2 linked regions of the Homo sapiens genome follow. The protein of the gene in region 2 purifies or fractionates together with the protein of the main gene of each other region. This does not show direct contact. Each region holds a gene or a part of one and is shown on either strand. Other genes may lie near its edges.

The links. Proteins that work in one complex are often made in the same cells at the same time.
Region 1: the proteins of FAM216A (region 2) and TTC5 purify together in Homo sapiens (affinity purification with mass spectrometry; one large-scale study listed by BioGRID and IntAct). This does not show direct contact.

What each region holds. Positions count from the first base shown.
Region 1 is NC_000014.9:20,299,452-20,302,951, forward strand, and holds part of TTC5 (tetratricopeptide repeat protein 5), read right to left. Parts: intron 2,515-3,500; coding exon 2,382-2,514; intron 1,368-2,381; coding exon 1,156-1,367; intron 1-1,155. UniProt on the Homo sapiens protein: Cofactor involved in the regulation of various cellular mechanisms such as actin regulation, autophagy, chromatin regulation and DNA repair.
Region 2 is NC_000012.12:110,471,845-110,475,344, reverse strand, and holds part of FAM216A (protein FAM216A), read right to left. Parts: intron 2,268-3,500; coding exon 2,227-2,267; intron 1-2,226.

The DNA of each region.
Region 1 (3,500 bases), on a different chromosome or scaffold from region 2:
CAAATAGGAAGGGCACATACTCAATCTTCCTGATTCTACCTCCCCTTTCCAGATCTATTCTGAACTCAGTCTTCTAAATCTAATTTTTTACCTTTCTAAGTTTTTTGTTTTGTTTTGTTTGAGGTGGAGTCTTGCTCTGTCACCCAGGCTGAAGTGCAATGGCGTGATCTCGGCTCACTGCAACCTTTGCCTCCCGAGTTAAGTCTTTCTCCTGCCTCAGCTTCCCAAGTAGCTGGGACTACAGGTATGCACCACCATGCCCGGCTAATTTTTATATTTTTAGTAGAGACTGAGTTTCACCATGTTGGCCAGGCTGGTCTTGAACTCCTGACCTCAAGTGATCTGCCTGCCTCAGCCTCCCAAAGCGCGGGATTACAGGTGTGAGCCACCACGCCTGGCCGTATTTTTCTTTTTGTGACAGGGTCTCACTCTGATGGAGTGCAGAGGCACGATCTCAGCTCACAGCAACCTCCACCTCCTGGGTTCAAGTGATTCTTGTGCCTTGGCCTCCTGAGTAACTGGGATTACAGGCACATACAACCATGCCCATCTAATTTTTGTATTTTTTGGTAGAGGCAGGGTTTCACCATGTTGGCCAGGCTGGTCTCGAACTCCTGACCTCAAATGATCTCCCCACTTTGGCCTCCCAAAGTGCTGGGATTACAGGCATGAGTCACCACGTCTGGTCCATGTATATATATATATTTTTTTTTTTTTTTTTTTTTTTTGTAGAGACAAGGTCTCACCATGTTGCCTAGGCTGGTCTCAAACTCCTGAGCTCAAGTGATCCTCCTGCCTCGGCCTCTCAAAGTGCTAGGATTACAGGTGTAAGCTACCACACCCAGCCCTAATTTTTTCATCTAAATTCTTGCTGCCATCTGTATCTTCAACCCCCATCCACAGGGATCAGCTTAGCTGCTAGCTTTTCTTCACTTCCTTTCTCCCCCTGAACCTGATCCCATCATCATCTTCCTTTCCCAGGCCCCTGCCTCTATTTTCCTCATTCAGGTCTGCTCTCTGACCTTTCCTCCCTCCTGATTCTGTCCTAGTTCAATTTCAGTTCTACTCTGGTATTCATGTCCTAGGGAAACTCATAGAACCAAAGAAATTCATCCTTCCCATCTCTGCTTTCCAAAGGGATAGGGGGCAGCTCACATGGGTGAGGGCTCCTGAGAAGCAGGTGTGGGCAGCTGCAACATCCCCTTTTTTCCAGTACACCTCACCCAGCTGGTTCCAGGCTTCCACCAGCTCGGGCTCCAGCTTCACAGCCTTTGACAGAAGCTCCTCAGCCTTAGGGCTATAGTCAGGAGTCACATTTAGTGCTTTCCCAGTTAGCATTAGAACTTGTGCCTTGCCCTGGACAGAACCTAAGAGGAAGAAAAAAAGATAAAGTGGGAAAAAAACAAGTTAAAGACCAGGGCACTTTCTCTCAAAAAATAACTACACGTCAGTTTTAGGAATAAAAAGAGTTGGGGAAAATATTTATCAATAAACCATTTATTGAAAGCTCACCATAGGCAGAGTGTATGTTAGCTAATTAGGCAACAAAGAAAGCACTATTTCTAGAGCTTCTGCCATCTGTTTCTTGGGCCCCTATCTACAAGGATCAGCTCGGTTGCTAACTTTCCTAGAGGGGTTTACAATCTAGTGGAGAAGACAAAGCGTAAACATGGAAAATTAAAACCATGAAAAAGAGCATATGGCATTAGCCCAATGAATGGGCTTTAACAAGTGAAGAGAAGATGAGTCAGGACAAATAGTTATCGTTAAAACAAAACAGAGAGAGAGAAGAAAAGACCCTCCAGGTTAGAAAATGATATAAACAAAGACACAGAATCAGAAGTACATGTGGCCATGTTCATGGGAGAATAGACAGTTCAACCTGGATGAAACAGAAAGTTCCTCTACAAGTAATTAGTCAGAGATAAGGTTAGAAAACAGAGTAAAACAATGGACACTTAAATACCAGGTTAAGGGGGTTAGACTTCAGCTAGTCAATAGCAGGAATCTTTAAAGATACCTGAGCAAAAAGGCAGATGAGAGGATAAGGTTAAATGCATGAAGTAATGATTTAGAAAGATAGCCATGGCCATGGTATTATATAAGTGGATTTGAAAGTAAAAGAAATTAGAGGCAGAAAGTCAGATTACTGCAATAGTTCAAGTAAGTATGCTCTTTCATTTCATGCCATTTGCTATAATCAAATTTTAGGAAAAGTGGCTTAGGGAATGAAAGGTTGCACAGGGGCCCTGAGAAGTAGTATTACGTTGTACTACCCTATAGCAGTAACAGATAGGATACCAAAGAGTCAATGAGGAGGGAGCAAAGGTCAATCACATTTCACTGAAGGATGGGGGTTGTACAATCTCTAGGGCTCATACCCACTACTTCTTCCATCTGCTGTAGGGTTTTCTCCATCTCCTTCTGCACATCCTGTTGCTTCCTCCCAGCATCCTCAACACTATGTGTCTCGAAATAGCAGTCTCGAAATGAGTAGAGCTGATCCACGAGTTCCTAAAAAGTATGACAATGGAACCATTAAGTGGAAAGATCACTGGATAGGGAAACTTGAAATTGGCTAGCCATACCAGCTCTTGGTCTAGAAATACCAATTCTCTTTCTCACCTATGAATGGCACAATAGGCAGGTGGACAGGTTTACTAAAATGCCACAAATCATGAGGAAAAGCAGCCAGTACCCCAGGCCAGCTCTCATGGTCCCATGTTGTCCCATGCCAGTGTCTCTATTGTGATGACCATTTTCTCTCCCTGCCTCAGCAGGGCTTCTAATATGACTAAGCACTTCACATACCACAGTCATGAGGAGGGAAACACTGCAACTTAAGATAAACCAAAAGTTAGTAAGATCATTCTATATGGTCCTGGTCCTCAAAGAATAACACTTTGAAATTTACCCTTAAAGTTGGACTTCTCAACTAAAACCATTTTATCCCTGATTTTTCATATGCTGAGATCTGAAAATACAACACAACCTTTGTGAATATAATAAACATGTTAGAGAGTCATTGTTTTCCACCACAAACATACCAATTTGAACTTGGTAACTTTGGTATCTTTGCAGCATTTTGTTCTTTTAAATGCTTATTGTGGTTTTGTTTAGTTTGATTTTTTTGTCAAGTCATCTTCTGGCTGCCTTGGATTTTTTACAAATAAATATTCTCTTTCCTCTTAAATGCCTCTGAGTCTTCCTGTCACACCAGGCAAAGCTTTTCTACTACAGGTCAAGCATCCCTAATGCAAAAATCTGAAATCCTCCAAAATCTGAAACTTTTGAAACGCTGACACCACAAGTAGAAAATTCCACACCTGACACACAGTCAAAATGCGGTCAAAACGTTGTTTCAGGCACAAAATTATTAAAAATATTGTATCAAATTACTTTCAGCCTATGTGTATAAAGTGTAAATGAAACAATTTTTTTTTTTTCTTTTTTAAAAGACAGGGTCACCAGGCGTGGTGGCTCATGCCTGTAATCCTAGC
Region 2 (3,500 bases):
GCTTGAACCTGGGAGACCGAGGTTGCAATAAGCCAAGATTACACCACTGCACTCCAGCCTGGGCGACAGAGTGAGACTCCGTCTCAAAAATAATAATAACAGTAATATCTAGAGTCACTGCCAGTAGTTGGCTATCGTGTTTATTTTAAATAATAGAATGAATCCTTAAGTTCAACTATAGAGGAAGACAATCAAGCACTTGCTGAATACTGGCCCTTTTCCCCTCCAATTATAAACAGCAATACACATTGTTCACTGCAGATTAGTGAAGTAAACTAAGTGTATAAAAAGAAAATAAAAACTTTTAATTCCACAATCTAGTAGTAATTTTTTTTAATTAATTTTTTTTTTTGAGATGGAGTTTCACTCTTGTTGCCCAGGCTGGAGTTCAATGGCGCGATCTCGGCTCACCGCAACCTCTGCCTCCCAGGTTCAAGCGATTCTCCTGCCTGGAGTAGCTGGGATTATAGGGATGCACCACCACACCCAGCTGATTTTTTATTTTAGTAGAGACGGGGTTTCTCTATGTTGGTCAGGCTAGTCTCGAATTTCTGACCTCAGGTGATCTGCCCGCCTCAGCCTCCCAAAGTGCTGGGATTACAGGCGTGAGCCACGGCGCCCAGCATTTTTTTTTTTTTTTTTTTTTTTTTTTTGAGACAGAGTCTCGCTCTGTCGCCCAGGCTCAAGTGCAGTGGCATGATCTTAGCTCACTGCAACCTCCGCCTCCTGAGTTGAAGTGATTCTCCTGCCTCAGCCTTCCGAGTAGCTGGGACTACGGACGTGCACCACCACACCTGGCTAATTTTTTTGTATATTTAGCAGAGACGGGGTTTCACCATGTTGGTCAGGCTGGTCTTGAACTCCTGACCTCAGGTGATCCACCTACCTCGGCCTCCCAAAGTACTGGGATTACAGGTGTGAGCCACCGTGCCCGGCCTAGTAGTAATTATTTTAAAACACTTTGACATATTGCCTTTCAGAGTTTTTACTAGGCATATATTTGTTTAGAAATTTTTCTTTTATATAACTAAGTCAATCTAATATACTGATAATTGTTAATATTTCTTTATTTCCCTCCACATCTGGAATATATTACTAATAATTATATTGTTTTGTGTTTCCTTTCTTTTTTACACTGAACTATAATTCAGTAAGAATTTTGGTGAGGAATCTAAATTAATGAACCCAGACTGCAACACATTTTTTAAATGACCATATTATTTATTTATATATGTATATATGCACACATATATGTCTGTATATTTTTTTCCCAGGTAACTGTAATGACTATATATTTACCAAGGAAAAGCAAAGTGAACCCAGGTTTATGTATCACTGAATTTAAATGAAACATTTAAAACCTATTATAACTACTATACTTAAAATATATATACATACACACACACTCCTACAGTCAGTTAATTCCAGCTCCTCTCCCAAGGGAAAAAAAGCAATTAGTGAGAGACCTTTGGGGGATTGTTTTACCTACTCTCTTAACTCCAGCAGAGAAGAGGTGAATACTTTGAAAGCTCTATTCTTTATTTCAAGTGAGAGGAAAACATCAGCACTGAGAAATATTTTGTATTCTTTGAAGCTATTCAATTTAGAATTTTTTTCTTCTATCCATGTATAAACCCCAGGCTGTGCTCTGTGCTTTTCAACCAACGTCAGCTATAAATACAGTTCTTTTAGGATTCACTGCTAATTTTAAAAATGCTTGATGTAAAATATACTGTACCAACAGACAAGAAAAACCTCCCTGATTGCTCTTTGAAATCTTAAAGACTAAGTTCACCAAGGATGCTAATACAATCTATTTTTAACTCTATTGTGGGCTGGGTGTGGTGGCTCATGCCTGTAATCCCAGCACTTTGGGAGGCGGAGGCAGGTGGATCACCTGAGGTCAGGAGCTCCAGACCAGCCTGGCCAACATGGCGAAACCCTGTCTCTACTAAAAATAGAAAAATTAGCCAGGCATGGTGGCACGCATCTGTAGTCCCAGCTACTCAGGAGGCTGAGGCAGGAGAATCGCTTGAACCCAGGAGGCAGAGGTTGCAGTGAGCCCAGATCGCACTACTGCACTCCAGCCCAGGCAACAGAGTGAGACTCCATCTCAAAAAAAAAAGAAAAAAGAAAAAAACTCTATTGTGTAAGTAGTTACAGACAAATAGGCTTCTCAGAACCATGTTACTTATAAGTATTATCTGCTTTATATGCACTACTCACCAGAACCTTTGGAATTCTGGTAACAAGAGTATCCAGCTGATCTGTTGAAAAAATAAAGCATATAAATAATATGTAATAATTACAATGTTACAAGCACTGAACAACATATTTCAATTTTTTTTTTTTTTTTTTTTTTTTTTTTTGAGACAGGGTCTCACTTTGTCACCCAGGCTGGAGTGCAGTGGCATGATCTCAGGTCATTGGAACCTCTGCCTCCCAGTTTCAAGTGATTCTCCCACCTCAGCCTCCCAGGTAGCTGGGACTAGCGCTGCTACACCCAGCTAATTTTTGTATTTTTAGTACAGACGGTTTCACCATATTGGCCAGGCTGGTCTCAAACTCCTGACCTCAGATGATCTGCCTGCCTCAGCCTCCCAAAGTGATGGGATTAAAGGTGTGAGCCACTGCACCCAACCAACATATTTCAAATTTTAAAAAAGGATAGTGTTGCATATTATTTTTACTTTTCATGTTTCCATCAGAAATAATGTCTTACAAATTTTTTCCTATAATTCTGGTTAAATCCTAATGGCTCCAAGATTTTTTTCTTTCCTTTTTTAGAGATGGGGTCTCCCTCCTTCACCCAGGCTAGAGTGCAGTGTCGTGATCATAGCCCACCGCAGCCTCAAAATCCTGGGCTCAAACGATCCTCAGCCACCAAGTAGCCAGGACCACCAAAACGCCTGGCTAATTTTTGTACAGATGTGAGCCACCATGCCTATCCTGGGTCTTAATTTTATAGCTTCCTAATCTCATTCCTACAGTGAGCTCAATAAAGTAGTTGGGGCTCCTGGGCTATCCATGTGATTATCTTGCTGTCTTTATTTTTAATGAAGTGATTTGGGTATTGAAAAGACTGTTCTTTTTTTTTTTTCTTTTTTCTTTTTTGAGGTAGAGTCTTGCTCTGTTGCCCAGGCTGGAGTGCAATGGCGTGATCTCCGTTCACTGCAACCTCCGCCTTCCAGGTCCAAGCAATTCTCCCACTTCAGCCTCCCGGTAGCTGGGATTACAGGTGCCCGCCACCACGCCCGGCTAATTTTTCCATCTTTAGTACAGACAAGGTTTCGCCATGTTGGCCAGGCCGGTCTCAAACTCCTGACCTCAACTGATTCGCCCGCCTCAGCCTCCCAAAGTGCTGGGATTACAGGTGTGAGCCACCACGCCATGCCGAAAGACTGTTCTTTGAATAGTAATTAAGGTGTGCTAGAACTAATAAGTTGGTCTGTAATGTTTCTAATTTCGTACAAATTCTTTTTCTTTTCTAAACTTAAGAC